Linked DNA regions of Homo sapiens. Changing the gene in region 2 together with the main gene of any one other region gives a genetic interaction. Each region holds a gene or a part of one and is shown on either strand. Other genes may lie near its edges.

Region 1 (4,569 bases), on a different chromosome or scaffold from region 2:
AATAATTTGTTGGGTTTGTTCAATTTTTGGTGTCATTTATATAAAAAGAATAAAGAAGAATGTGAATGGTAGGAAGTCAGGGGAGAGGCATGGCAGAAACATTGGTATTCACTAGAACTTGTATTTTTCTAGTGCATGTGAATTGGACTCATTTCACAAATAACATTTACAGTATAAGTCACTGAAATGCAAAAAAGGAAAGCAGCTAACACGAGACATTTATACTTTATGCTCAGACATTCTGGTAGTAGAGGAGGGCTAGGACCCTAGAGCTGTGTAGTAAAGAATTGTTGAGTATCGTTCAGTTTAGGTACCACGAAGGTGGTATCTCCTGCTCTGCCACCAATAGAAACTTGAAGTTAAAAAGAAAAGACTCTGAGAGCGCTGATGCTGGAGAGATTTGGCTGTTTACCCCTCTGGGATTGGATTCGGTAAGAGTGCAATTAATTGCCCTGTAACCATAGAGCCAGAGGAGAGGGACTAGGTGCTCCGGGCTATGCTCTAGGAGGTGTGAGGTGCTTTCTATGCTGTTTATACCCTAGGCTAATCCTATGAGGTAGATAGTGTTGGGCTTTTTTTGTGGATGATGAAACAGAGATGCAAAGAAGTTAATTCCCTTGTTCAAGGCCACAAAATTATTAAATGAACACTAGGATTCAAACCTGGGTCTGTCTTAGATGACTGAATCTGCGGAATTTTCCCAGCTGTTTTGTTAGTCTTGATCCGTGTAGATCATCCTTCCAAAAACTTGTGTTTCTAATCAAGTTTATGATCTATAGTTGAGCGTCTGTACTAAATGGGTCGAGTGATTACATGGGTAAATGAAATTGATAGAACTCATATCATTGTGCTGAATTCCCTAGCACCATTTAATAAGATGCAGTCTTGCTGGGTGCAGTGGCTCACGCCTGTAATCCAAGCACTTTGGAAGGCCAAGGCGGGCGGATCACGAGGTCAAGAGATTGAGACCATCTTGGCCAGCATGGTGAATCCCCGTCTCTACTAAAAATACACAAATTAGCTGGGCGTGGTGGCGGGTACCTGTAGTCCCAGCTACTCGGGAGGCTGAGGTGGGAGAATCGCTTGAACCCAGGAGGTGGAGGTTGCAGTGAGCCAAGATCGCGCCATTGCACTCCAGCCTGGGCGATAGAGGGAGACACCCTCTCAAAAACAAACAAACAAAAAATTTGTGTAAGAAAAATCATTGAAGTCTTTGTGTTGTAGCATAGTGGTTAAAGTGAGTTCAAACTCAGGCTCTATCCTTTACTAGCTGTGATGTTGGGGTAGTAGCTCCTCATACGTTTTATTTATTTTTTAAAATTTTATTTTATTTTATTTTTTTGAGACGGAGTTTCGCTCTGTTGCCCAGGCTGGAGTGCAGTGGCGCGATCTCGGCTCACTGCAACCTCCGCCTCCTGGGTTCAAGTGATTCTCCTGCCTCAGCCTCCCAAGTAGCTGGGATTACAGGTGCTTGCCACCACTCCCGGCTAATTTTTGTGTTTTTAGTAGAGATGGGGTTTCAGCATGTTGGCCAGGCTGGTCTCGAACTCCTGACCTCAGGTAACGTGCCTGCCTCGGCCTCCCAAAGGGCTGGGATTATAGGCATGAGCCACATTGCGCCTGGCCCTAATGTGTTTGTTTCTTCATCAGTGTAAGGGGACAGTCAACTTTCATAGAGTTAAGAAGATCCAGTTAGTGTGTGAGAGGTACTTAGAACAATGGTTGACATTCTAAGCATCCTGTAAGTGTAAGTTGCTCCTGATAGGTTTGATTTTTGAAGTTTGTTTCTTTGTATTACATTTTATTTGCTTGTTATTTATTTTAGTAGGGGCATAATGTCATAGGAAGGATTTGATAGCTCCATTTCCTAAGTAACCCATTTGAAGTAAACTTAGCTTGGTTTTTTTTACTCTTAAAAAGTTGTGGTTTAAGGCTTACATATACTATGAATAATTTACATGATTGGTGTAGGTACGGTGGTGGATCTTTTTTGCATGCCTTTGTTGCTATTCTGTCATCTGGGTTGGACTTCTTAAGCCTACTTGCACCATTTGAAACATTTTTCAACTTACTTTCTTTCTTTTTTTTTTTTTTTTGAGATAAAGTCTCACTTTGTTTGTTGCCCAGGTTGGAGTGCAGGTTGGAGTGCAATGGCGCGATCTCCTCTTACTGCAACCTCGCGCCTCCTGGGTTCAAGCGATTCTCCTGCCTCAGCCTCCTAGCTGGGATTATAGGCATGCGCCACCACGCCCAGCTAATTTTTGTATTTTTAGTAGAGACGGGGTTTCACCATGTGGTCTCCATCTCTTGACCTTGTGATCTGCCCGCTTTGGCCTCCCAAAGTGCTGGGATTACAGGCGTGAGCCACCGCGCCCAGCTTCAACTCTTTTTTTTTTTTTTTTGAGACAGAGTCTTGCTCTGTCACCCATGCTGGAGTGCAATGGTGCGATCTCGGCTCACTGCAACCTCTGCCTCCCGGGTTCAAGCGATTCCCCTACCTCAGCCTCCCAAGTAGCTGGGATTACAGGCGCCTGTCACTTGCCTGGCTAATTTCTTGTATCTTTAGTAGAGATGGGGTTTCACCATGTTGGTCAGGCTGGTCTCGAACTCCTGACCGCCCGTCTCGGCCTCCCAAAGTGCTGGGATTACAGGCATGAGCCACCGTGCCAGGCAAACTCTTTAAATACAAAGGGAACTCTTTCAAGGTTTGGGTCCAGCAGAACCTAGGGTCTGCCTTTTAGGCTGTAGTGATTACTTTGGGTAGGTGGTTTTATTTTATTTTTCCTGACCACTTTTTATCTGTGTATTCTTTTCCGTATTATCAGATGCTGTCTAGATAGTTGTCCTTAGAAGTTCAGTTCCTCTATGAGCCTTATCTTATGTTCACTTCCCATTTTTAACCATACTTAATTTAGCACTAGTGTTCACTTTGCTAATAGTCAAAAGTTCTATGTATCAGGACTATACAGGTGCTTTGACAAGTACTGTGACAGTCTGAGTGCTGATGCCTGAATTTAACAGTGAGAAAATTGAGGCTCAGGTAGTAGGGGACAGAGCAGGAATTTAGGCCCAGTTTGTGTGAATTCTAGGCCAGTGTTGTTACCTAGCAGTCTGTCTTCTCAATGAATGAATGGTTGTAGGTCTGGATTATTAAGTTTTTATTTGGTTGCCCTGAGCAACCTTTCTTATTCATTTTATCTTCTGTAACTACTGACAGTGTAATTTATTTAAAGTACTGGTTTCATCTTGTCAGTTCCCCTGCTGGAGAACCCATAATGGATTCTCTTTGCCAACTGGATTGAATTTGTATGCTTCAGTCTGGCTTTTAAGAAGGTTCCATTCTACCTATTCAGCTTTATTTCTCACTCTTAGTTGGGATTCTTGCCGGCCTCTCAAATACGGTAGTTTTTGCCATACTCACTACTTTGCTTTTGTGCATGCTGTTGTTCCCTTTGTCCTTCTTATAGCCTAGTTTCAGTCCCCCTTCTTCCATGAATCCTTTTCTGGCCATCCTGACTCAGGATATTTCTTCTCTGAGATTCCATTGCACTTAATGAAGATCACAAATCCCATAACTGTTTATTGTTTTGTTGCCCCAACTACGATGTTTCTTGAACGGATGGACCTTTTTCCTTCCAGCATTTGGCAGAGTTCTTAATACCATTTTCATGTTAAAATGGATTGTGAGGGCCTGTGTTAAAATGGGAGCAGTGACAGCCCTGTTCCACTGTAATGTGGCAGCATCTTCTTTTTGAGTTAGACCTTAAAGATTTAGGTGTGCTATAGTCACATTTAACTGTTCATTTAAATTTTAGTGCTGCCAGAGTTGCAAAGGAAGAAAAATTTGTTAGTTTCTTAGATGAAAATGGATGGTTTTGACTGGGTACGGTGGCCCACGCCTGTAATCTCTGCACTTTGGGAGGCCCAGGCAGGGGGATCACCTGAGGTCAGGAGTTTGAGACCAGCCTGGCTAACATGATAAAATGTTTAGCTCTACTAAAAATACAAAAAATTAGCTGGGAGTGGTGGCACACGCCTATAATCCTAGCTACTCAGGAGGCTGAGGCAGGAGAATAGCTTCAACCCGGGAGGCGGAGGCTGCAGTGAACTGAGATTGCGCCACTGCACTCCAGCCTGGTCAACAAGAGCATCAACTCCGTCACATACACAAAAAAAGAAAATGGATGGTTTTGCCCTTTTAATTCTGGAATAGTAGCCACAGTACTGGGGGAAAACCTAGTCTAGTTAGGAATTGTGTCACAGTAAGTTGACTTTATCTGGTTATATATGTGTCAGGTAGTTAGGTATAATGATGCTTAAGATTTTGGACTCTTTTTTTTTTTTTTTTTTTTTTTTTTTTTGAGATGGAGTTTCACTCTTGTTGCCCGGGCTGGAGTGCAATGGCACATGCTTGGCTCACTGAAACCTCCGTCTCCTGGGTTCAAGCGATTTTCCTGCTTCAGCCTCCCCAGTAGCTGGGATTACAGGTGTCCGCTTACACGCCCAGCTAGAACTTTATTTTCTTAATCTGTTAGGTTTTTTCTTCATTATTTCCTTAGTAGTGTACCT
Region 2 (4,569 bases):
CACACCACCACACCTGGCTAATTTCTGCATTTTTTGTAGAGACGAGGCTTCGCCATGTTGCCCAGGCTGGTCTCAAACTCCTAAGCTCAAGTGATCTGCCTGCCTCAGCCTCCCAGAGTGCTGGGATTACAGGTGTGAGCAGGTACAGCAGGCTGAGCACCAATGAGACTGGCGAATGCTGAGTTAGTTTCACCACCATACGCCTCCTGTTCCTTTTCCTGCTTTACCTCTTTGGTCTCTTGAGACTGACTATAAATAGAACTGAAATGCACATCCTGTGATTTTTTTCTCCTTCATTCAGTAACTCCTTCAGAGTAACAATGGTCTGGGTGAGGTATAGCACCATGCACAGTGGACATTTTGCCTCAAGGCAGTCTACTTTAAGATGCAATCCATGGTTTAACCTCAATCTAATTACAACAAACCAGACAAATCCAAATATGGAGACAGTATGAAAAACAACTGGCCTGGACTCATGAAGGTCCCCTATGCAACTTTCCTGTGTAACTTTTCCTACAGGTTTGGAAGGGAATGGAATGGATAAAAAATCTTAGTCTTTGTTGACAAAGCAATAAAATTCTTGTTCATTGAAGTTTGAAAAAACTTGTAACAACCATCAATTCTCATAACCATTAGTGTAAAAGGTATAAAAAGCTGGTATTACATATGTATTTGACATTAATTAGTATATAACTATAAACACCTATTAAAGTAATAAAATGTAAAACATCCCCTTAAGAAATTAGGAACTTGTGAGAAACTGCTGTACTGATAACAGATTATTCAACATCTGTGCACACTGGCAGCCACACTCACAGTCTCTGGCCAGCAATGTTCGCTGCTTCTGTCACCCTACAACCAGGCCAATACTTGGATTTACAACCTAAATTTAAACAGCCATGGAATGTGTCCACAATTTAAGTCAAACCTATTACAATATATTCTAAGGGCTTTTCCCAACTGCCTAGGATTCTGTGGCATTACTTACTGCTTGAAATAGCTAGTAACTATTAATTGTTAATAATCATTACCTAACGTATTAGAACTCAGGAATCCTTCCATTTCACTAGCATGGCTGAGATAATGGTTATTACCATTATTACATCGTAGCCCATTATTCTAGGCTAACAAAAAAGGGGTGGTGATGGGGGGAGCAGTGGGGGAAAAGATACTTTGAACACCTATGTATATAGGTGTTCACCATGATAACATCATTATAACAAATTCCTCTCTAAAAAAGATTTTGTTAACTATTTCTCTCCCAAAGAGACTGTTTAACCAATTTTTAGGTACGGAATTACAACCTGAAATCAAGCCTTCATTTCCCTCTCAACTTAATTACCACTTCCTATAAGAACTTGATTATATGTCTGAGAACCGAGATAGTAAAATGAGGAGTCTGACTGAACAATCGAGATTACTACCATTGGACAAACCCTGAGAGGAATTACTCTTCAATTCTCCTGGCTTTCGTTATCAATTATATGATATTAAAGAGAGAAAAAAAAAACCTTACCCAGTTATTTTCCCAAATGACTGCAAGAACAACTAAACAATGTAAATGATGAAATAACTCAAAAAGTTTTGAGAAGGGGGTTGTAAGTCCATATGTGGAAGTTTAACTTTTCTCCAATTCTATTTACTAATTCACTTTCAGAAAGGTTAAATCTTTTTATTTTTTGAAACAGAGTCTCGTTCTGTCACCCAGGCTGTAAGTGCACTGCAACCTCTGCCTCCCAGGTTCAAGTGATCCTCCCACCCCAGCATCCCAAGGATTACAGGTGTGTGCCACCACGCCAGGCTAATTTTTGTATTTTTAGTAGAGACGGGGTTTCGGTTCGCCATGTTGGCCAGGCTGGTCTCCAACTCCTGACCTCAAGTGATCCGCCTGCCTCAACCTCCAAAGTGCTGGGATTACAGGCATGAGCCACCACGCCCAGCGAACAGTCAGTGTTTTTATTCATTTCTTATTTCTTTTTCTGAGGTGGAGTTTCGCTCTTGTTGCCCAGGCTGGAGTGCAATGGAGTGACCTCGGCTCACTGCAATCTCCGCTTCTCAGGTTCAAGCAATTCTCCTGCCTCAGCCTCCTGAGTAGCTGGGATTACAGGCATGTGCCACCATGCCCAGCTAATTTTGTATTTTTAGTAGAGCAAGGTTTCACCGTGTTGGTCAGGCTGGTCTTGAACTCCTGACCTCAGGTGATCCACCCGCCTTGGCCTCCCAAAGTGCTGGGATTACAGGTGTGAGCCACCATGCCTGGCCAGAAATCTTGCCGTTTTTCCCCAACTCTGGGTGGCTGCATCTTACCTCTTTATGCTTCTCCATGGTGGCATATAGTTTCTGTGAGAGGTCGTTAGATACATTGGGCATCCCGGGTTTCTTCTTGTTGCCCCTACTCAGGCTGCTCTTATTTTTGCTGGTTTTCTTATTATTCTTCTTTTTAGCATTTTTGCTGTCTCCCTTGGTCACCTGCAGAGTAGCACAAAGGAGACAAGAAAATAAGGTTTTTGTTAAGTAATTTGGGAATAGCACAGAATATCTCCCTTCTTTGAAACTAGATATCATAATCTTATGCCTGTAACTTATTTTACTAGCTGTTCTCTTCACTTATTCTTTCTCCTTAAAGTTGTTATTTGACCTAATTTTCTCCCAGTGATCTTTAAGGCAATGGCAGCCCTTTAGCTTTTTGCCTAGAAGAGGCCACAGAATGTGCAGACCCTGTAGATTGATTGAATGTATCCCAGATTGGGGCTAGGGAACAAGGAAGGGGTGGCACTTTGGGGTAGTGAAGAGTGTATCAAAGTGGGGAGCCAGAAGACCTTGGTTTTATTTCCTTCCACTCATATTCTAAAATGTTATGAGCCTACAAATACTAAATGACAAGGCTGTAAGAGTTTGTTAACAGACTATTTAAGGGTGCCTTTTGTTAAGTTAAATTCAATGGAGGTAATTCGAGATATGCTATGGGGAAATAACTGGTGAGGTTACTAAGCCAGGCTTAGTAACTTAAATTCTGGCTCAGGCCTATTTTGTATAGCTAAGAATGGTTTTTTACATTTAAAAAGAGTGTGTTTTTAAAAGACAGAAAATATGCCAGAGATATGTGACCCACAAGGCCTATAATATTCATAACCTAGTCCTTCAGATAAGTAATCTTCTATCAGTTTTTCAGGATTTCCTTCAGTTTCTTTTATCATTTCACATTACTCAAAGTCTGAGATGCCATTTTAAAAGGGGCTCTGATGCTTTAAAAGTTTAATACCACTGAAACAGAACCCTAATAACCTCTCTAAGCCAATATTTCTTGTCCAACTTAAAGAGCTCTTTTACACCTGAAAGCTTTAAAACCCAATTGAAAGTTTAAGTGCACTTCTGGATTAAATATTAGAATCATGATAGAAGTTTCAAAGGAAACTCAATGCCCTTACATCTGTGCTTTCATTGCTGGTGTTTTCCTCTCGTTTTCTCTCTTCTTCCTCCTGTTCCAGTTCCTTAATGCTTTCTTCCAGAACATTGGGCCAGAAATCACCCTCGAAATAAGGCAATTCCTTTGCACTTGTTAATCTATCTTCAGTAGCTTGTTTAAAAATATCCTGTGAAAACATGCATGTACATATAGGAATTTCTATGTTCTTTTAAAGCATTGATTATACAGAATAATCATGGCTGACAAGAAACATGAAAGCTTAAAATGTCTTGAAAGCTGGCAGAGACTTTATACCTAAGCCGTAAGCCAGGGAGTATTTAGAAAAATAAATAGTGAAAAGGCCTGGCCTAAAGTCAATATTTCCGGTTTTCTATTTCTTCTACCCACAAAAACAGGGAGCTTATCTGCCTTTATATAACCAAGTGGCAATTATCCTGCCAGGATCAACGTCAGGGTGGTAGCACCATCATGCATGCCATGGCCCCTACCACTCCTTATCACAGAATATGTGGTATGAAGCATGCCCTCCTCACACCCATCCTTGGAATTTCAGCAGCTTTTACTGACAGCTTTGTTCAAAATGACCAAAACTACAAATACTGGAAATAGTATCTGCTGCAGAATGATTTGCTGGGCTGCTTAGGAAAACTTCTTTATTTAGTTGAACTACTAAATTGAGGAAGACAAGTCTGTATCATGAGACAACCTATATTTATGAATAACATAATACTGTTAATTAAGAATATATTTTTGGCCAGGTGCAGTGACTCACACCTGTAATCCCAGCACTTTGGGAGGCCGAGGCAGGTGGATCACCTGAGGTCAGGAGTTCGAGACCAGCCTGACCAATGTGGAGAAACCCCGTCTCTACTAAAAATAGAAAAAATTAGCCTGGCTTGGTGGTGCATGCCTGTAATCCCAGCTACTCGGGAGGCTGAGGTAGGACCATCACTTGAACCCAGGAGACTGCACCATTGCACTCCAGCCTGAAACTCCGTCCAAAAAAAAAAAAGGGAGAATATATTTTTGGCTGGGTGATGTGGCTCATGCCTATAATCCTAGCACTTTGGGAGGCTGAGGTGGGCAGATCACTTGAGCTCAGGAGTTTGAGACCAGCCTGGGCAACATGGTGACATCCTGTC
Region 3 (3,918 bases), on a different chromosome or scaffold from region 2:
GAGGCCACGCGAGGGCACTTGGCATGGAACAGCGGAGCTGCCTGGACCAGGCCCTCCAACCCGGCCCCCACACACCGCCCGAGGACCTGCTACACACCGGGCACGGGGAGGGAGCTGCCCTGGGGAAGCCCTGCCCACCCCAGGTGCCACACAAGGCCTTACTGCCCTGTTGCCAAGACAGGCCTGGCCAGGCAGCCACGGTCCACCCAGGGCCTCCACGTGGGCGCCATGGCCAGGATTTCGTTCTTTTTGACATCATGACTCAGGCACCTTGGAAGCCAAGGTAAAAGGGGCGGCGGCCGGAAGGCCCCGCAGACACACTCACCATCTTGGCACTGAAGCGGCCGTGGGCAAGCTCCCCCACAAAGGTGAGCTTACTGGGCTCGGAGTGCCGCAGCAGGTGCGTTCTGACACCCTCGATGGCTTCCACGTAGTCTTCCAGCAGCCTGTGGACACCAGCAGTCATCTCACTCTACCAGGACGGTGCATCGGCTCCCGTGGGGCACCAGGGACAGGCACATCCTGGGCCCACACAAGTACAGCAGGCCTGGCCCTTGCCGGACAGAAGGTGCCACCCTGCACAGCCCATGGCCCTCAGTGAAGATGCCCCCCTCACCCCCCCAGAGGCCACGGTGAGAGGTGAATGAATACGCCCTCCACATAAATGCCTGGGCCAGGCCTGGCACGGCTGCGGTTTCCTGACACACAGTGTGGCGGGGGGCAGCAGGAGCGGGGGCCGTGGGAGCTGGGGGCAGCAGGAGTGGGGGGCTGCGGGAACGGGGGAGCCGCGGGAGCTGGGGGCAGCGGGCCGGGCCTCACTGTGTCTCCTGCTTCCCGCCCTGGATCCACTGCTTCAGCAGGTACTCATAGTAGCTGTCGGCCCTGGCGCCCAGCGTGAATACGCCCAGGTGGGTGAAGAGGCCACTGTGGGTATTGATGAACATGGGCACCAGCCCATCCTTCTTCCCAGACAGGCCGTGGATGTGCTGTGTCACCTTCTCCACTGCCTCCTGCGGCAGAAAGGGGGATGGTGGGTTTACTGGCCAGGGCCGAGCTGCAGGGTGAGCTGTAGAGGGGCTCTGTGAGCTCTGCCTCCCCTCGCCCCAGCACCGACTGACTCCCAGCAGAGAGAGCTCTGTGCCCAGCCCACAGCTGTCCTTGCCCACATGGCTCCTGGTGGCCGTACCACACAGCCACACAGCCACCAGTGCAACGCACCTGAATGTCACTGCTCCCAACGGGTGGTCACCACAGAGCTGACCCATCTTCAGGATGGCTCTCATCCCTTACTCGAAGGGACAGCATCTGACAACCACAGGCACTGTCCTCACGAGAGCCCACCAGGCCTGGCCGTCAGCCATGGCTCTGGAGGGACGGCAAGTGTGCCTGCCTTCTGAGCCCAGTGTTGCTCCTGATGATATTAAACGCCTCGGCTCCACGCCCTCCTGGTGAGCTCCTACTCATCCTCCAAGTCACAGCCACCCTCAGCTCCTCAGGGCTTACGCCCAGCTGGCAGCACCAGGCGTCCTGGCCCACAGAGGGGCACAGGGTACCGGGATGTTAGGGCACGCCCAGCAAGGGCGCTCCGGGTCTCTACCCAACGCAGACACCCAAACCCATGCCCAGCACCTTCGAGGCCTGGCTGCCTATCCCTGTGTACCGGCAGCAACCAGAGGCCCTGGTGACATGGGGGTGCCCATGGGGGCCTGGGGCCATTTTCTGAGCTGCAGTGAAAACGCCTTCTAAATGTCTGCATGGGAGCCTCACGTGGATGGCGTGTGGGAGCCTCACGTGGATGGTGTGGGCTGCACTTCTCACCACAAGTGGTCACAGTTGCTCTAAAGAGGGCTGTGTCCAGCTCATGATTAAAAACAGGGACTCGAACATGAGGCCAAATACATGAGCAACAATAAACTGACCAGCTGTGCTTCATGAAAATGACAATCTGTTATCTATCAAAATACACCATTAACAAAGTAAAAAGAGGCCGGGCACAGTGGCTCACACCTGTAATCCCAGCACTTTGGGAGGCCAGTGGGTGGATCACCTGAGGTCAGTTCCAGACCATCCTGGCCAACATGGCAAAACCCCATCTCTACTAAAAATACAAAAAAATAACGGGGTGTGGTGGTGGGTGTGGTCCCAGCTACTCGGGAGGCTGAGGCAGGAGAATCGCTTGAACCCGGGAGGTGGAGGTTGCAGTGAGCCGAGATCGCGCCACAGCCTCAGGCAGGTGTGTGCACCCACACTCACAACACCCAAAACACAGCCTCAGGCAGGTGTGTGCACCCACACTCACAACACCCAAAACACAGCCTCAGGCAGGTGTGTGCACCCGCACTCACAACAAAGCAGAGCCTCAGGCAGGTGTGTGCACCCACACTCACAACGGCCAAAACACAGCCTCAGGCAGGCGTGTGCACCCGCGCTTACAGCAACCAAAACAGCACAGTCCTGGTGTCCACCAGAGGAGAGAGGATTAAACAAAAAGTGGCCTAGCCACGCAGCAGATATTCAGCCTGAAAAAGGAATCTCTGAAGCATCTTTCGCGTATGAAGCTTAAAGACGCTGAGTGAAAGGAGCCCAAATAAAAGGATAAATCAGCCGGGTGTGGTAGCTCACGCCTGTCATCCCAGCACTGTGGGAGGCCCAGGCGGGTGGATCACGAGGTCAGGAGTTTGAGACCAGTCTGGCCAACTTGGTGAAACCCTGTCTCTAATAAAAACACAAAAATTAGCTGGGCGTGGTGGCAGGCGCCTGTAATCCCAGCTACTTGGGAGGCTGAGGCAGGAGAATCACTTGAACCTGGGAGTGGAGGTTGCAGTGAGCTGAGATCACGCCACTGCACTCCAGCCTGAGTGACAGAATGAGACTCTGTCTCAACAAACGAAAACAAAAAAAGGACAAATCGTGTGTGACTGCACTCACACGAGGAACTCCACACAATGAGGTCCAGGAAGAAAAACCTGAACAGTGTTTTTCAGGGACTGGGGAGGGACATGAAGGGTCACTGTGTGATGGGAGAGCTTCAGTTTTAAGATGAAAAGGGCTCTGGAGATGGAAGTGATAGCTGCACAACAGCATGAATGTGTGTAACACCACTGACCTGTACTCCTGCAACAGCGTGAATGTAACACCACCGACCTGCATGCCTGCAACAGCATGAATGTGCAACACCACCGACCTGCACGCCTGCAACAGCATGAATGTGTAACACTACCGACCTGCATGCCTGCAACAGCATGAATGTGTGTAACACCACTGACCTGCACGCCTGCAAGTGTGAATGTGTGTAACACCACCGACCTGCAAGCCTGCAACAGTGTGAATGTGTGTAACACCAACCTGCACACCTGCAACAGTGTGAATGTAACACCACCGACCTGCACGCCTGCAACAGCATGTGTGTAACACCACGGACCTGCACGCCTGCAACAGTGTGAATGTGTGTAACACCACCGACCTGCACGCCTGCAAGTGTGAATGTGTGTAACACCGACCTGCACGCCTGCAACAGCATGAATGTGTGTAACACCACCGACCCGCACGCCTGCAAGTGTGAATGTGTGTAACACCAACCTGCACGCCTGCAACAGCGTGAATGTAACACCACCGGCCTGCACGCCTGCAATAGCGTGAATGTGTGTACCACTGACCTGCACGCCTGCAACAGCGTTGTGTGTAACACCACCGACCTGCATGCCTGCACCAGCGTGAATGTAACACCACCGACCTGCACGCCTGCAACAGCATGAATGTAACACCACTGACCTGCACGTCTGCAACAGCGTGAAAATGTGTAACACCACCGACCTGCACGCCTGCAACAGCATGAATGTACCACCGACCTGCACGCCTGCAACAGCATGTGTGTAACACCGACCTGCACGCCTGCAACACCATGAATGTGTGTAACAC
Region 4 (4,569 bases), on a different chromosome or scaffold from region 2:
GTGTGTGCTGTGATGTCCGTGTGTGATGTCTGTGAGGCCCACGTGTGCTGTGGCGTGTGACATCCGTGCAGGCCCGTGAGGCCCACGTGTGTGCTGTGACATCCGTGTGTGATGTCTGTGTGTGCCACGATGTCTTGTGTGAGGCCTGTATGTGTGCTGTGGTGTTGTGTGTGACATCTGTGCAGGCCCTGTGTGCTGTGACGTCCGTGCAGGCCAGTGTGAGACCCATGGGTGTGTTGTGATATCTGTGTGAGGCTGTGTGCTGTGACATCTGTGTTATCTGTGTGTGCCCGTGAGGTCCACGTCTGTGCTGTGATGTCCATGTGTGATTTCTGTGTGCGCCCGTGAGGTCATGTATACTGTGATGTCTGTGAGGCCCACATGTGTGCTGTGGCATCTATGACATCCGTGCAGGCCAGTATGTGTACTGTGACATCGGTGTGTGATGTCTGTGTGTGCCATGATGTCTGTGTGAGGCCCACATGTGTGCTCTGATTTCTGTGTGAGGCTGTGTACTGTGACATCCGTGTGTTATCTATGTGCCCATGAAGCCCATGTGAGTGCTGTGACGTCCGTGTGTGTTATCTGCATGTGCCCATGAGACCCACGTGCTGTGATGTCTGTGTGAGGCTGTGTGTGCTGTGGCATCCGTGTACGTTATCTGTGTGTGCCTGTGTGAGACCCACGTGTGCTGTGACGTCCGTGCACGTAGGGCACACGCCTGGGACTCCCGGGCCCTGGTGCCTGTGCGCACTCAGTCCTGTCCTGGGTTGGGACCGACACCTGCAGCAGCCCCACCCCGCCCCGGGCCTCTCCTCCTGGGCACAGCTGAAGAGCGGCAGCGCCAGACACAGGGAGGGACACAGGCGTGGAGCTGCGGCCGACGCACCAAGTCCGATGATGCCCAAGGTCTCCCCGCGGATCCTGGCAGCGCCGGACGCCACCTCGCGGATCTGCTCGACGCTCTGGACTCGTGTGCCCTCCCGCAGCGCCTGGTGCAGCCAGGTGGCCCGCCGGTACAGGTTCAGGATGTGGCACAGCGTCGAGTCGGCCGTCTCCTCCACAGACGCCGCGGGCACGTTGCAGACGGCAATGCCTGTGGGGACAAGGACACGGCGGTCACCCCCGGGCCGGGCCCAGCCTCCGGGAGGACACCGGGGCCGCCGTGACTGGAGCGGGTTTGAAGCTTCCCAAGGAAGAAGCCAAAGGCCGTGTCCCCAAGGCCACCCCGGGAGGCCACGAGATGAACACGTTGCTCACAGGTCGGGCGCAACAGAGCAACTCCAGGAGCCCCACCTCCACTTTAGGTTCACGTGGCAGCACACACACGGCAACTGCTCGGTGTGTGGTAGGGCTGGGGTGTGAGACGCTGCCCTGACCCCTCCCGACTCAGCGCTGGCAGCCCAGGAAGAGACAAGCACGTGTCTCCCCGCGTCACCTCGCCACCCCGATTCCTCTCGGGGGTACCCTGCTGGGAGGCTGTGGCCAGGTCAGAATCTGGGTGCCGGCCCCGCCTGCACACCCCTACGTGGACATCCGCACATGTCCTCAGGCCTCCCCCAGGCCCAGCCGGGCCCCGAAGCCCCTTCCGCCCTCCATGCCCCACCCCTGCAGTCGGTAACACTGAAGCTGGAGCCATTCCTGGAAAGCAAGTCCATCCCATTTCTCCCGAGTGGCCAGGCACGCCCATGTGTGACCCCTACTCCCCGCTCCCGGCCTTGTCCCCAGAGACAGGCCCTTCCCCAGCCAGTGCCCCTCCCTGAGCCTATTTACCCTCATCCCTGGCTTGTCCCTGGCCAGGGCCGCCCCTGCACGGCACTTCCCACCCCATCCGGATGATTGCATTCCTGTGTCCGACTGGCCATCCGTCTCCCTGGGGAGGAGGAGGGGGCAGGAGGCCAGGACAGGGCTGCATTCATAGGCCCGGAAGCTGGACAGGACCGTGTGGTTCCGCAAGGGGTCCCGGGGGCCGGGAGAGGGCCTGATGTGGGGCGGCGCAGGCAGGGGCTGCATAGCCCCTAGACACAACTCACTTGGACGTAAAAATGTTAAACAAGGGAGACTGAGGGAGAGCCAAGCCAGGCGCCACACGAGATTGGAACAAAGACCTCCTGAGGGTGGGCCAGATCCCAGGGGTGCCCCAGACCATCCCTGGCTGAAGAACAGAGCCCAGGCCTGGGAAACTCCACGGGTAACAGAGATGGTAAACAGCAGGGACCCCTCAAAAAGCACCAGGCATGCACCCGACACCACACACCCAGGCCTGCACCCGACACCGCAGCCGGCCCTTCCTGGGACGCCACCACAGAGACAAAGGCGGGAGGAGGCTGGCACACAGGTTTGGCCCATGGGCGCCGGCGGAAGCAGCTGAAGCCAGTGCAGGAGACCCCCAGATGGAGGCATGGCTTCCGACACCACCTGCGTCCCCCGCAGGAACACAGACGGTTCCAACTTTGCAATGCCATAAACTGTATCCTAGGAAAAGGGAAGCAAAACCGTGAGGCGCTGGCCAACTGTGGGCAAGGGCAGGGTACAACCTCGCCTGTTACCAGCATCGAGAGGAGGAGAAAAAACAGACCGAGCCTGGCAGAAAACAGAAAGTGCGCTCCAAGCAGGACGGCCAAGCACCGCCCCAAGTTTGTTCTAATGAGTGTCTGTACATGGATGCAGACACATGTGCATGTTCCATGTGCGTGTAGGTGCACGGGTGCAGACGTGCGTGTTCCATGAGTGTTCCATATGCTGAGTGCACAAGCAGAGGTGCATGTGTTCTGTGTGATGAGCATGTGATCCATGTGCTGAGTGCGTGTGCACAGGTGCAGATGAGTGTGCGTGATCCGTGTGCTGAGTGCATGTGCACGGGTGCAGATGAGTGTGTGTGTTCCATGTGCTGAGTGCACATGCACGGCTGCAGATGTGCGTGTTCTGTGTGTGTTCTGTGTGCTGAGTGTGCGTGATCCGTGTGCTGAGTGCGTGTGCACGGGTGCAGATGAGTGTGCAGGATCCGTGTGCTGAGTGCATGTGCACGGGTGCAGATGAGTGTGCGTGTTCCATGTGCTGAGTGCACATGCATGGCTGCAGATGTGCGTGTTCTGTGTGCTGAGTGTGCGTGATCCGTGTGCTGAGTGCATGTGCACGGGTGCAGATGAGTGTGCAAGATCCGTGTGCTAACTGCATGTGCATGGGTGCAGATGAGTGTGCGTGTTCCATGTGCTGAGTGCACATGCACGGATGCAGATGTGCGTGTTCCGTGTGTGTTCTGTGTGCTGAGTGTGCGTGATCCATGTGCTGAGTGCACAGGTGCAGACGTGTGTGTTCTGTGTGCTGAGTGCACACGTACTGGGTTGCAACACGCTGCTGTTCCCGCTGTGTCTCGGGACAGAGACCTATGAGCCCTATTACAGCCATACACTGACGGCCCTGCCCTCACCCCCAGGGTCCCAGTACCCAAGCAAGGGGCACCAGCCAGACATGCATGCAGACCTGTGTGAAGCCACAGCTGGATTTCCTGCTGCCCAAAAGAGAGGAAGTGCCCTGAGATGAGGCTCTGTGAGGAACTGAATGGCTGCAACCTCATGCCGGCCCCAGACGGGACCACGAACCACCGCCAGCCACACCAGGCAATGTGCAACGGGGTCCTCAGTGTGGCAGTGAAGCCTCCATGGACGAAGCAAGACGGGACGGAGCTTGCATGAATGGGCACAGGAGAGAACTCGGAGCCGGCCTACCTAAATCCCCGGCCGACTTGATGTCGATGTTGTCAAAACCACTGCCAATCCGGACGATGATGCGGAGGGCTTTGAACTTCTCCAGGTCCTCCCTGGTGAGAGTGATGGTGTGGTACATCAGGGCCCCCACAGCCTCGTTCAGGACCTGCAGCGAGAAAGCACACAGGCTCAGCCCGGAACCTGAAGACCCTCGGGCTTGGCCTTCGGGGGTGGGGCTGCCCCGGCTGGGAAATTAGCCTGTGGCCCTCAGGCTTGTTCCCCAAGCACCAGCCCGGACACTGGGAGAGGCTACATGAAGGCTTCCCCGCCACGCGCGGCCCCTCAACCTCTGCCCAGGCGTCCTGAGTCCCAGCAATTCCCACCGCAGCCTCCTCAGCCGCATGTAGGCTGCAGGCCGGCACTGGTCAGAGTTGCCCGCTCCCCACTGTGGTGGCTGAGATGTCTCCTTTTGAGCGTGCGCCCCACCGAGACTCTGCTCAGCCTTGTGGAAGAAACGGGGTCCCGCCTGGCGAGGACACAGGAGGGGGGGTGCGGCCACACCCAGGAAGGACACTGAGCAGGTGCAGCTGGGTGGGGTGGCCAGGGAACCTGAGACCTGCAGGCCCGGGGATGCAGGTAGAAAGTGGTAAGTCCCCGCGGCACACAAGCACGTCGGCGGAGGCAGGCAGACGCCACCCAGCCGTAAGGATACATCCACAGGAGCATGCACTGCCCCCGTGTCGCCCAAGAACCTGCCCAGAAATGCTGCCCCTGGCTGGCGAGGCTTGGGTCTGAGCAGTGTTCACAACAGTCACGTTTTTAATTTCAGTGTCCATGACAACTCTTAGACCGGAACAGCTCC
Region 5 (4,569 bases), on a different chromosome or scaffold from region 2:
TTGCCGTTGTAGAGGCAGTAAGATAGCCCACTCCCTGGATGACCCTTGGGGCTAGGGTCCTGAAAGACTCCACCTCCTTTATAACCCTGATAATACCTTAAGCAAACCTCCATTTCTTCTGTAGCTTGGGTGAGTCTCTGGTTCCTGTAACAAAAGGAGCCTACTCGATGGCCAGCCTCCAACACTACTAATATCAGTTAACCCACTTCCTTTCCAATAGAATTTCATTAACAATGTCTACATGAACAAGCCTTTCCAAGGCCTCTTTCTAATAAAGGAGACACTGGCCAAAGATGACCATCTCTCCATTAAGATTTTTTTTTGTAATTTAAACGTTTGTGTTGCACTCTTGCTGGTTCATTCCCATGAATGAGAAACAAACCTTATTAGGAGGCTGGACCTGTCTAGAACGGCAGTGTCACATCAATTTGGGGAACTTCATTTATTTCCTGATCAAACCAGAAAAATAACTCATAGCGCTTCTCTAACAACCAGTCAGAGGCATCATTTTACTACGTTACTCCAGCGTGGGGATTACCTTGCCTTACCAGTTCCCTTCCTCTATCCAAAATTATTTTGAATATATAAATGCAACTGAATCCTAAGAAATTTATTCTATCATGGAACAGTCAGCTGAATAAAAACTAAATAAAAAAAGAAGTACAAAAAAAAGAAAAAAAATTTATTCTATCTGCATTTGACCTTAGTTTAGTTTAATGCCCAAGAAACGAGACCATAATCCCTGAAAATAAAGGGGTAAAAGAGAACCTGCTCTTCTGAATGCCATCAAATTCATAAAACAATCTTACAAATCACTTTTACTACATTCCAATGTACCTTCGACAATCTGCATTTTACAAATGTATAGATGAATATTACAGTAAAATGTTAACTTTAAGGGGAAAACATCCCAATAAAAAGGCTCTTGGTTTCACTGACCTGTGATCGCCTTCACCACCATATCAGACACTTCTGGGATGTCTTCATTAACAGGGACACACAGCATCTGAGGCGTAACCCAGCGCAGGGCTCTAAAGAGAGAGAGACAGTAAACAAGAGCTCCAAGGATAAACTGTGGCCATTTGTCTTGTCACCTCCTTCAGTTTAGGGAAAGCCTGAGGCATCACTGACCACTCAATCCCAGGCCCACACACATCACCCCTGCAAGTACTACGAGCTCTAATGACGTGATGAAGCAGCTAGGATCCTAAAATGAGACTTCTGCATTTATCACAAGAATGGAAGGCCATCTTGCTGACTGAAATGACATTACGCAGTGCTACCAAGACTGAAATGCACTCAGTATCTGAAAGTGACCATTTGAGAATTGGCTGCTGCCTGTCCTCGCTGCCTACTGCGTTAATGTCCTTTTACACTCAGTCCTCAACTTCTTTCTTTTTTGAGATGGAGTCTCACTCTTGCCCAGGCTGGAGTGCCAATCTTGGCTCACTGCAGCCTCTGCATCCTGGGTTCAAGCAATTCTCCTGCCTCAGGCTCCCAAGCAGCCGGGACTACAGGCGCCCACCTCCATGCCCAGCTAATTTCTGTACTTTTACGAGACAGGGTTTCACCCTGCTGGCCAGGCTGGTCTCAAACTCCTGACCTCAGGTGATCTGCCTGCCTTGGCCTCCCAAAGTGCTGGGATTACAGGTGCGAGCCACCACACCTGGCCTCAACCCTCAACTTCTGAGGCACACTGGAGCTTGTATAGGAGGCCACGGGCAGGACCACCATGCCTGAATCACTGTGTGTTTCCTGGTCCCACCCTAACTGCACTCCAACTACCCTGCAGCAGGCCTGCCCTCTTGCTTGGTTACTGCTTCTGTTCTGCATCTTGGTCCAGGGCCCCTCTAGTTACTTCTGGCTCCTGACCTTGGGCTCCACATCTTCAGCCTGCCCAGTATCAACTCCTCACTTCAGCTATGAAACTTCCAATACAGATCTAGCAAGTACCAGCCCCTTGTCTGGAACCTGGGACTCCGAGTCCCTTCTCCCCTTAAAACACCTCATCAGCTCAGCCTTGGCCCTGTTCCCACACTTGGGTGGTCTCTTCCTCAGTGTCCACCGCAACTGGAGTACACAGTGCTGGGGCTCACCCCAGTGAGCCTGGAAGACTGGGTGCTGTGGGAAATGTCATCAATCCAATGCCAGTGAAAGATGTGACTAGGGAATGCTGAAAAATGCACACCCCTGGGAGGAATGAGGAAAGAGGACATCTACTGACTTGTTATTTTTTTGAGAAGGAGTCTTGCTCTGTTGCCCAGGCTGGAGTGTGGTAGCATGATCTCAGCTCACTGCAACCTCTGCCACCTGGATTCAAGCCATTCTCGTGCCTTAGCCTCCCAAGTAGCTGGGATCACAGGCGTGCGCCACCATGCCTGGCTAATTTTTGTATTTTTAGTAGAGACGGGGTTTTACCACGTTGCCTGGGCTACTCTTGAACTCCTGGCCTCAAGTGATCCTCCCAAAGTGCTGGGATTACAGGTATGAGCCACCGGGCCCAGCCGACATCCCCTGCCTTGATACCGATATTCACAGCTTCCCACTTGAGGAGATGGTAATGGACCAAGAACACAGTCCCCCTATTCCTTGGAGATTTCAGGGATTGAAAACAATCTCAAACACCAAACACAACTCTTACCAAAAGCTGCCTTGAGGGAGATGGATAGGTGAGGTCACCACATTCCTCGTCTTTCTTACACAACAGAGCTGCTTCCACTCTAAGGAAGCAGGAACATGAGCTATTGCTTTCCCTTAAGGTTTGAAACACAGGTGCATTATTTTCCCCCCAGTGTGTTCTTCCATTAGAAGGTAGTAACTACAAAGCAAAACAAAATAAGCAACTACCTGATTCTCTTTTGAATGGCAAGATCTTTCTTCTCATCATCAGTAGTTTCTGGACAGAATACATATTTATAGAGACGAGTCATGATGTACTTTTCAATCTGATCCATTATCTTCTCGACTCTTTCTGGAGGCACTGAAATAACCAGACAGAGAAAAGATCAAGATATATATATTTTTTCTCTCTCTTTTTTTTTTTTTTTGCAAACAAAGAGTCTGGCTCTGTCGCCCAGGTTGGAGTGCAGCAGCATGACCTTGGCTCACTGAAACCTCCACCTCCTGGGCTCGAGCCATTCTCCTACCTCAGCCTCCCAAGTAGCTGGGATCACAGGCACACGCCACCATGCCTGAATAATTTTTGTAGGTTTTTTCTGTGGAGATGGGGTTTTACCATGTTGCCCAGGCTGGTCTCGAACTCCTGGGCTCAAGCAATCTACCTGCCTCAGCCTCCCAAAGTACTAGGTTTATAGGTGTGAGCCAGAATGCCCGGCCAAGAGTATATTTTCATAGCACTGTCTACACAGCAAAAAACTAATTTACTAGAAATAAATTAAACACACTCAGAACAAAAGTATAAGAATGTTATATTTAAAAATACGCTTAAAAAAAAAACTTACCAGCTGGGTGCGGTGGCTCTACTCCTGTATTCCCAGCACTTTGGGAGGCTGAGGCAGGTGGATCGCCTGAGGTCAGGAGTTCAAGACCAGCCTGGCCAACATGGTGAAATCTCCTCTCTAATAAAAATACAAAAATTAGCTGGGTGTGGTGGCACGCACCTGTAATCCCAGCCACTCGGGGGCTGAGACAGGAGAATCACTTGAACCTGGGAGGCAGAGTTGCAGTGAGCCGAGGTCACACCACTGTACTCCAGCTTGGACGACAGAGTGATATTCTGTCTCGACAAAAACAAACAAACAAACAAACAAAAAAATCTTCTTCCAACTGTTGGGCTGCCTTCCACAGCAACCTCAGTTCTAACTGAAGTTGTCTGACAGGACCTAACAGTGTACACCCTGCCAAATGGGGAGACTTCAGCAAGGTCACTCCCTGTCCTACATTACAAAGGCATTTGCAACTCCCAAGACTGATGAATGCTGATGAAACTTATCCTTTCATTTTTCTGAGGTTTACCATAACATCGTAGAGCTCTCTGAGGTATACAAATGGAGATTTCTCTGACACACACATGTGCTAAGTATATCCTAAAGTCTAGTATCAGTGAAGGTTGAATCCATAAAGAATCCCTAAAAACTTGAAGCTCTTTTTTTTTTAAACTATTAATACAATAACTCACCAAAATGGTGATTCCAAGATGGAAAATTCATTTAGCAAAGCCTTCCAATAAGTTTTTCTCTTTCTCTCTCTCTTTTTTGAAGACAGAGTCTCGATCTGTTGCCCAGGCTGGAGTGCAGTGGCACAGTCTCAGCTCACTGCAACCTCCGCCTTCCGGGTTCAAGCAATTCTTGTGCCTCGGCCTCCCGAGTAGCTGGGATAAGAGGTGCACCACAACACCCGGCTACTTTTTGTATTTTTAATAGAGGCGGGGTTTCACCATGTTGGCCAGGCTGGTCTCGAACTCCTGGCCTAACGTGATCCGCCTGCTTTAGCCTCCCAAAGTGCTGGGATTACAGGCATGAGCTACTGAGCCAGGCCCTAAGATGTTTTCGTCAGCTCCAGCCCTGCCCCAATGGAGTTATTAAATGTTACTCAATAAATTATCCAATT
Region 6 (3,566 bases), on a different chromosome or scaffold from region 2:
CTACTAAAAATACAAAAATTAGCTGGGCATGGTGGCGAGCACCTGTAATCCCAGCTACTCAGGAGGCTGAGGCAGGAGAATGGCTTGAACCCAGGAGGCAGAGGTTGCAGTGAGACGAGATCGTGCCACTGCACTCCAGCCTGGGCGACAGAGGGAGACTCCGGCTCAAAATAAACACATAAAGAGCTGCACTGGCCTTGCGTGTTCTGCCGCGGGGCCTCCTCTCTGCTTCCCTGACCGACATGCCTGGGCCCGACTCTCCTCCTGGTCAGGGCTCTCCTAGCGAGGGGAGACTTTGGTGGGGAGAAACTAGACGTGGGTCAGACGGGAGCCGCAGGGCGTCTGCAAGAGGTACACACTCCTATGGGAGGGACAGCTGCTCACGGGGCGGACACGCAGGCATTAGGCTATGCGCCAGGATGAAATGTCTCATGAAAGGCAGGCTGTAAACGCCCACAACAGCTCCCTGGAGCCTCGTCACGGCAGGGCCAGAGTTCACAGCCACCCTCCAGAGAGACCTCGAGACCAAAGTGGAGGAAAATCACAACACAATCGACACTCAACAATGCCTGCTTCCCTGCTTCCTTCCCAGCGGAGACTTCATTACAACCTGCGCACGTGCACACACACACACACACACGCATATGTGCACACACGCACGCACACACACGCGCACACGCAGGTGCACACACAAGCACGCGCACACAGTGGTTCTCAACCAGGGCGATTCTGCCCGTGTGGACACCTGGCAATGTCTGGAAACATTTTTTATTTTCACAACTCGGGTAGGGGGAAGGTGCTGACATTCGGGGCTGGATTGTTCTCTGGGACGGGGCCGTCCTGGGCACTGCAGGGTGCTGCTGAGCAGTGTCTCTGGCCTCCACCCACTCCAGGCCAGGAGCACCCCCCATCGTGACAACCACAATGTCCCCAGGCATCGCCCAGTGTTCCCTGGGGGCAGTTCACGCTGGGTGAGCCTCTGCTGCAGCAGAAGGCTGTGTTTCCACGGAGAAGCCACTTAACTCCCTCACTGACCACCGGCTGGAGGCCTCATGCATGCCTCGCTTGAGGACAAGCTCATGAGGAACTCTAGCTACTCCCAAGAGACAGACGTTGATCAGGAGAGATGAGGCAGATGCACGGGAGCTGTGAACCAGGCACCATTTTCCAGGGGTGACTGAGAGCCTGGCCCTGCAGTGGGTGAGGCTGGGGGCTCGGGAGTAGGGACCTCATCCGCCTGACCAGCCCGAGGACAGGAGAACGGCGGGAAAGGTTTGGGTGCCATGAGAAGGCCACTGTGATGAGGGGGAGGGAAGAGCAAGCTCCCCGCAGTCGCCCAGGCCTGCAGTCAGAGGGTGACGGGGGTGACACCATGACCATGGGGGAAAAGGGGGGCTGGCAGTGGCCTCTGCGATGCAGGAGATGTCAGAGATGACCAAGATCTCCATCCTCGCAGTGCAGATGTCAGTCTTCACACACCGCGTAACGAACGAATGCAGACTCAGCCACGCGGAACAGCAGGAATGCGGTGTCTCGGCTCTGAACGGTGGAAATCCAGGTGCGGGCTAGCTGGGCCCTACGCTCCAGGTCTCGCAGGGTGTCATCAGGGCTGAGATCTCACTGACACCCAGGGTCCTCTTCCAAGCTCACTGGAGGTCGGAAGAGTCCACCTCCTGGTGGCTGTGGACTGAGGCCCCGTGTCCTGGCTGGCTGTTGGCGGGGATGGCTCTTGGCACCGAGAGGCTGCCCTCGGGTCCTCGCTTCATGCCCTTCTCCTGGCACACCCTGGCTTTTTGCTTCTCCAAGGCCAGCAGGAGGGTGAGTGGCTCACCTGATTAGGCCAGGCCCACCCCCTCCCTTTTGATGAACTCAGCGCTAACCGATCTGGGGCGGTCATCACAGCTGCAACATCCCCTCTGCTGGGATTCTGACATAATGGCAGGAGTGACACGCACGGCAGTCCCAGCCCTACCCACACTCGAGGGGAGGGAAGAGCATGGGGCGTGCGGAGCAGGGGCTGGAAGCTCAGGGAGCCACCCTGGAACTCTACTCTGCCACACTAACAGGCTCAGATGATTTAATCCCAGACAACAGCCCTTCTCCTCCTTTCTGGACACTAGGCACGAGGAAAAGCAGGGCCAGGGGTTGGGGGATAAGCTTAGGGCTTCCATGCTTTCGTTGGGAGGAAGAACAGGGGGTCCTCATATCTCCACCAAGTATGTAACCAACACAAATTCAATGTCACATCTGGCACTGGCCCAGAGAGAGGAAGCCACTCACCCAGGGTCACCCAGCAAGCATGGCCAGGGCTGGTCACACTGTGGCCTGACAGGGGACCCACACTCTGGGCTGCTGATATGGGGGAGCTCAAGGAACAGGTCAGCAGAGGATGATGCTGTCAGGAGTTGGGGTGGACAGACTCCAAGATGGCCCCAGAAGCCCCTGCCTCTTGACAGCCATACCCTGTGAGGTCCTGGCCACTTGAGTATGGGAAGGACTTGAACTTGCTTCTAACCAGCAGGACACTGGGGCAGAGGGGAAGGGATACCCTGTCACCTCTGCATGACATGGGACTGTGCCCTCTGTCTTACACAGAGTCATGGCCATCTTCTCCATTTGCTGATGAAGGAACTGATCATGCTGGGGAGGTCCACGTGGCCAGGCTCTGAGGGCTGCCCCAGCCAACAGACACTGACAAACAGACACCTTCGGTCTGACAACCAATGAGGAACTGAACCTGGCTTACAACCACATGAGCTTAGAGGCCGACCCATCCCCGGTTGAACGTTGAGATGAGACCACAGCCCAGGAGACACTGTGACTGCTGCCTTGTGAGCTCCTGAAGCAGTGCCCAGACCCCTGACTCACAGAAACTGTGAGATGATAAACGTCTGTAGTCCTAAGGTGCTCAGTTTGCTATAATTTGTTACGCAACAGTAGCTGACTGATATAGGAACCGAAGAGAGGCCATGCTTTCCAGCTTCAGGACAGAGTGTGCCCTACCTAGGTGGGTAGTCTGGTCTGATTATCAGGTGACAACCGACAAGTCCACCTGTTGGGAATCCCAGGTCTGGTCCAAACCCCTTGTTTGGCCGGTAGAGCACAGAGACAGAAAGTAACCAGTTCACAATCACACAGCAAATTCACTTCCTACTTTCCGTCACCCTTACAGCATCAAGGCCTTCACTGAACTTGGCATCAGTGTTGAAAATGCATCAGAGTCCCTTGGCCATAAGGTGCCAAGGGCTGCTGCTAGTGCCCAGGGAGCCCTTACCTTTTCCCTCACAGCGGGCAGCAGAGCGTTGAAGCACGTGGCCAGAAACACCCCTCCTCCAAAGGTGTTGCAGAGAGAGAGGATCTTTTTCGAGCGATGGGCCTTCTCAAAATCTGTCTCGATGATCTTCACGGGGAGCAGGGAGCCGAGCAGCATGAAGAAGAACACGCCCACCATGCACAGGATTTTGGCCACTAGCAATTTCACCATGGTGGCGGCTTGGGCTGCTCTGGTCACTGCAGGGCCAAACCATCTGTGGGCGCACACCCAAGTCCCACGATGTGCTACCGAG
Region 7 (4,569 bases), on a different chromosome or scaffold from region 2:
AAAAAACAAAAAAACAAAAACAAAAAAAAACAAAAAAACCCTATCAGAATGAATCAAATCATATATAAACTAGCACCCAGAACCTGACCAAATACAAAGAAAAGTGTGATTCACTGCTTAAATTAAATTAGAACACTTGTGTTAGTAGAGAATAAGCTCAGCCTGGCGCAGTGGCTCACAGCTGTAATCCTAGCACTTTGGGAGGCTAAGGTAGGAGGACTGCTTGAGCCAAGGAGCCAGAGACAAGCCTGGGTAACATGGGGAGATCCTGTCTCTACAAAAAAAAAAAAAAAAAAAAAAAAATTAATTAATTAAAAAATAAAAATAAAAAAGAGAGTAAGTTAGCTCGGCTCAAAAAAGCCTGGTGAAGATGCCTAATTTGGAGTTCAGATTTCACTAGCTTTAGTAAGTAAGAAATCCAACTGCTCTTCATCAGGCAGATGCTAACCACCAATCTACACATAAAGCACTACATAATTATCCACATTATATATTTCACAAAATTGTTTCAAATGGCCTTTTATAAATTTAGCTATTTGACTATTTTTATAAATTTCATCTAACCCACTTTAAGACTAACATCTTAAACTCCACATTTTAAAACTCAAATTAGGCCGGGAACAGTGGCTCACACCTGTAATCCCAGCACTTTGGGAGGCCGAGGCGGGAGGATCACAAGATCAGGAGTTTGAGACCAGCCTGGCCAATAAGGTGAAACTCCGTCTTTACTATAAATACAAAAAATTAGCTGGGCGTGGTGGCGCAGCCTGTAATCCCAGCAACTTCAGAGGCTGAGGCAGGAGAATCACTTGAACCTGGGAGGTGGAGGTTGCAGTGAGCCAAGATCACACCACTACACTCCAGCCTGGGGGACAAAGCGACACCTTGTCTCAAAAAAAAAAAAAAAAAAAAAAAAACTCAAATGAGTTTGGGATACCAGATTTAAAGCTAAGCTTTGTCACTCTCAGATTTTCACATTTTAATATTGATAATGATAGTTAACATTCTCTTTTCTGTTTTCAATCTCCTAAATCAAGTATTCTTAATCTGAGGTTCATGAACAGCCTTGGTGTGAACTGCCTATAACTTTATGCAAAATGTTATATGAGTATATAGACACAAAGGGAGCAGATGCATCAAATGTAACGTGAGTATGGCTACACGACCATAAATGGGTTAAATGTAACAGTCCCAAATCAAGATACCAGAAAATATCTATAAGGAGAGTAGAAAGGACAAAGAGTAATTCCACTTAAGTACTATTATTATACAAAGGAAATACATTCAGAGAAATTAAATCCATCATTGTTCTTGGAAAACATGAATTACATAATTCACTGAGTTTCACTGTTGAAGATCACTAGTTTGAGACGCAGACTGCACAAAATGCCCTATGTAAAGACCATAGATGGCCAAGTGAGGTGGGTCACACCTGTAATCCCAACACTTTGAGAGGCTCAGGCAGGAGGATCACTTGAGCCCAGGTGTTCGAGACCAGCATAGGCAACATAGCGACATCTCATCTCTTAAAAAAAAATTAGCCAGGCATGGTGCCAGTTACTCAGGAGGCTGAGACAGGAGGATCACTAGAGTACAGGAGGTTGAGACTGCAGTGAGCCATGACTGTGCTACCACCACTCCAGCCTGGGAGACAGAGCTAGATCATGTCTCGAAAAAAAAAAAAAAAAAAACCATAGCCACGTGGCTGGCACCGAGTAAGTGCTAAATAGCACCTAGTATTATTAAAAAGTGATGTTTCCAAAAGAATGGTCCCTCTTGTGAATAAAGGCATGCATATTTAACACTACTTGTCCTAATTAGGAAATCTACAAGCATAGAACACAGTAAACTTAACTGGAACCTATCACAACCTTGGATTTAATAAAGCAGTGTAGGGTGTTCCAGCCAATTGAGCCAACCTGTCACAGAAGTACCAAGGAAAACTATTTCCTACTTCTTCTGTACCCTATCTCTCACATGTTTCAGTCAGCCAACAAACTAACACTTAGTTCTCTGGCTCCTCAGGACCATTTTTCCCCTGAATATCATTCCACCATTACCCTATTAATAATCTGCAACACTCCCAGGGTGGTTCCAAAGAAAGGCCAAGACCTAAATTTTCTTCCCTAAATTACATTCCAGATATCAAAGCAGTAATCTCAGCCCCACCTTCTATAGGGAAACAAAGGAATAGTCTAATTGCTCCCCTCTCCCTCTAAAGCGGGGGCCGGGGGGGAGTCTGGGCATTTTGCCTAATTCTCAAAGGAAAATTCCAAAATGTAGTGGCGACAAAGTGGTAAAAAGCTGATAAGCAGCCAAACGTAGTGGCTCACGCCTGTAATCCTAGCACTTTGGGAGACCAAGGCAGGCGGATCACCTGAGGTCAGGAGTTGGAGACCAGCCTGGCCAACATGGTGAAACCCCATCTCTACTAATATAAAAATTAGCTGGCCGTGGTGGTGGACGCCTGTAGTCCCAGTTACTCAGGAGGCTGAGGCAGAAGAAATGCTGGAACCCGGGAGACAGACGTTGCAGTAAGCCAAGATTGTGCCACTGCACTCCAGCCTGGGTGACAGAGCAAGACTCTATCTCAAAAAAAAAAAAAAAAAAAAAAAAAAAAAAGCTGGTAAGCTACACATTTAAAATACCTCATGCACTGGCACACTACACCCATTTTCAGTTTTTCTTCATCTTAAGACACTCAGCCAAGCGTGGGGCTCATGCCTATAATCCCAGCACTTTGGGAAGCTGAGGCAGGTGGATCTCGAGACCAGGAATTTGAGACTAGCCTGGGGCAACATATTGAAATCCCATCCCTACAAAAAATACAAAAAAAAAAAAAAAATTAGCCAGGTGTGGTGGCACGCGCTTGTATTCTCAGCTACTCAGGAGGCTGAGGTGGGAGGATCACTGAAACCCGGCTAGGAGTTGGAGGCTATAGTAAGTTATGATTGCATCACTGCACTGTAGCCTGCGTGACAGAGTAAGACCCTATATCTCAAAAAACAGACACTCAAAGTTGATTAGCAAATTTTTTTTAAATCTCAAAACGTTAAGAAGCATCTTATTTTACCCTAAACATGTTCATATATTAGGAAAGTATATAGCTTGCCACAAAAGAAAGCTATTCTGGCCAGACGTGGTGGCTCACGCCTGTAATCTCAGCACTTTGAGAGGCAGAGGCAGGTGGATCACAAGGTCAGGAGATCATCCTGGCTAACACAGTGAAACCCCATCTCTACTAAAAAATGCAAAAATTTAGCTGGGCCTGGCGGCGGGCACCTGTAGTCCCAGCTAATCGGGAGGCTGAGGCAGGAGAATGGTGTGAGCCCAGGAGGCAGAGCTTGCAGTGAGCCCAGATCACACCACTGCACTCCAGCCTGGGCAACAGAACAAGACTCCGTCTCAGACAAAAAAAAAAAAAAAAAAAAAGCAAGCTCTTCTTTACTATCCAAAATAAAACTGAACTATTCAAACTACAAATAGTGAAACCATCACATAGGTATAGTCAAAACTACCCAGAAGAGAAAACACACACATACACAACACACAGCCAACAGATTGCTATGGAAGGTGAATATAGCAGGATGTTAGCACATACGTAAATTTTTTTTTTTTTTTTTTTGAGACAGAGTCTCGCTCTGTCGCCCAGGCTGGAGTGCAGTGGCGCGATCTCGGCTCACTGCAAGCTCTGCCTCCCGGGTTCAAATGATTCTCCTGCCTCAGCCTCCCAAGTAGCTGGGACTACAGGCGCCTGCCACCACGCCCAGCTAATTTTTTGTATTTTTAGTAGATGGGGTTTCACCGTGTTAGCCAGGATGGTCTCGATCTCCTGACCTCGTGATTCGCCCACCTCGGCCTCCCAAAGTGCTGGGATTACAGGGCACATACATAAATTATTAAGATTGCTTCCAGAATTAAAAAGACCAAGATACCTGAGAAATAAAATTACTCAGAAAGCAAAATTCCCTTTAAAAGCCAAGTAGAAGCCAGGCGCGTGGCTCACACAAGTAATCCCAGCAATTTGGCTGAGGTGGGTGGATCACGAGGTCAGGAGTTTGAGGCCAGCCTGGCCAACATAGTGAAACCCTGTCTCTACTAAAACTACAAAAATTAGCCGGGTGTGGTGGCACACACCTGTACTCCCAGCTACTTGAGAGGCTGAGGTGGAAGAATCACTTAAACCTGGAAGGCGGAGGTTGCAGTGAGCCGAGATCACGCCAACGCACTCCAGTGACAAAGTGAGACTCTGTCTCAAAAAGAAAAAAAAAGAAGCCAAGTAGAGAACTGGCAAGGAAGATTTGATTTTGAAGCACTTCCATCTTTAAGACAACGTTAAAAAAAAAAACTAAACTAAAATATTTGATGGTTAAAAACTGTCTAACATCCCTCATTTTAACTTAATTTGATTAAAGGGGGAAATTTTTATTTTTTATTTTTTTGAGACAGAATCTCACTCTGTCACCCAGGCTGGAGTGCAGTGGCCAATCTTGGCTCACGGCAACCTCTTTTTCCCAGATTCAAGCGATTCTCTTGTCTCAGCCTCCTCAGTAGCTTGGGACTACAAGC

The links.
Region 1: changes in EP300 (region 2) and TBL1XR1 together harm fitness less than expected from each alone (positive genetic interaction), as found in Homo sapiens cells (one large-scale study listed by BioGRID).
Region 3: changes in EP300 (region 2) and MAN1B1 together harm fitness less than expected from each alone (positive genetic interaction), as found in Homo sapiens cells (one large-scale study listed by BioGRID).
Region 4: changes in EP300 (region 2) and CTBP1 together harm fitness less than expected from each alone (positive genetic interaction), as found in Homo sapiens cells (one large-scale study listed by BioGRID).
Region 5: changes in EP300 (region 2) and RABGEF1 together harm fitness less than expected from each alone (positive genetic interaction), as found in Homo sapiens cells (one large-scale study listed by BioGRID).
Region 6: changes in EP300 (region 2) and SLC39A3 together harm fitness less than expected from each alone (positive genetic interaction), as found in Homo sapiens cells (one large-scale study listed by BioGRID).
Region 7: changes in EP300 (region 2) and RAB1A together harm fitness more than expected from each alone (negative genetic interaction), as found in Homo sapiens cells (one large-scale study listed by BioGRID).

What each region holds. Positions count from the first base shown.
Region 1 is NC_000003.12:177,189,926-177,194,494, reverse strand, and holds part of TBL1XR1 (F-box-like/WD repeat-containing protein TBL1XR1), read left to right. Parts: intron 1-4,569. UniProt on the Homo sapiens protein: F-box-like protein involved in the recruitment of the ubiquitin/19S proteasome complex to nuclear receptor-regulated transcription units. Plays an essential role in transcription activation mediated by nuclear receptors.
Region 2 is NC_000022.11:41,171,523-41,176,091, reverse strand, and holds part of EP300 (histone acetyltransferase p300), read right to left. Parts: intron 3,594-4,569; coding exon 3,429-3,593; intron 2,470-3,428; coding exon 2,308-2,469; intron 1-2,307. UniProt on the Homo sapiens protein: Functions as a histone acetyltransferase and regulates transcription via chromatin remodeling. Acetylates all four core histones in nucleosomes. Histone acetylation gives an epigenetic tag for transcriptional activation.
Region 3 is NC_000009.12:137,103,217-137,107,134, reverse strand, and holds part of MAN1B1 (endoplasmic reticulum mannosyl-oligosaccharide 1,2-alpha-mannosidase), read right to left. Parts: coding exon of another isoform or gene 2,770-3,918; exon of another isoform or gene 2,159-2,769; intron 1,011-2,158; coding exon 820-1,010; intron 447-819; coding exon 326-446; intron 1-325. Other genes in the region: uncharacterized protein LOC124902313, read right to left, coding at 2,925-3,918. UniProt on the Homo sapiens protein: Involved in glycoprotein quality control targeting of misfolded glycoproteins for degradation.
Region 4 is NC_000004.12:1,224,471-1,229,039, forward strand, and holds part of CTBP1 (C-terminal-binding protein 1), read right to left. Parts: intron 3,874-4,569; coding exon 3,729-3,873; intron 1,097-3,728; coding exon 890-1,096; intron 1-889. UniProt on the Homo sapiens protein: Corepressor targeting diverse transcription regulators such as GLIS2 or BCL6. Has dehydrogenase activity. Involved in controlling the equilibrium between tubular and stacked structures in the Golgi complex.
Region 5 is NC_000007.14:66,795,785-66,800,353, reverse strand, and holds part of RABGEF1 (rab5 GDP/GTP exchange factor), read right to left. Parts: intron 3,737-4,569; exon of another isoform or gene 3,621-3,736; intron 3,579-3,620; coding exon of another isoform or gene 3,462-3,578; intron 2,981-3,461; coding exon 2,848-2,980; intron 1,032-2,847; coding exon 940-1,031; intron 145-939; exon of another isoform or gene 97-144; intron 1-96. UniProt on the Homo sapiens protein: Rab effector protein acting as linker between gamma-adaptin, RAB4A or RAB5A. Involved in endocytic membrane fusion and membrane trafficking of recycling endosomes. Stimulates nucleotide exchange on RAB5A. Can act as a ubiquitin ligase.
Region 6 is NC_000019.10:2,733,774-2,737,339, forward strand, and holds part of SLC39A3 (zinc transporter ZIP3), read right to left. Parts: 5' UTR 3,485-3,566; coding exon 3,275-3,484; coding exon of another isoform or gene 3,167-3,274; exon of another isoform or gene 753-3,166; intron 1-752. UniProt on the Homo sapiens protein: Transporter for the divalent cation Zn(2+). Mediates the influx of Zn(2+) into cells from extracellular space. Controls Zn(2+) accumulation into dentate gyrus granule cells in the hippocampus.
Region 7 is NC_000002.12:65,119,564-65,124,132, forward strand, and holds part of RAB1A (ras-related protein Rab-1A), read right to left. Parts: intron 1-4,569. UniProt on the Homo sapiens protein: The small GTPases Rab are key regulators of intracellular membrane trafficking, from the formation of transport vesicles to their fusion with membranes.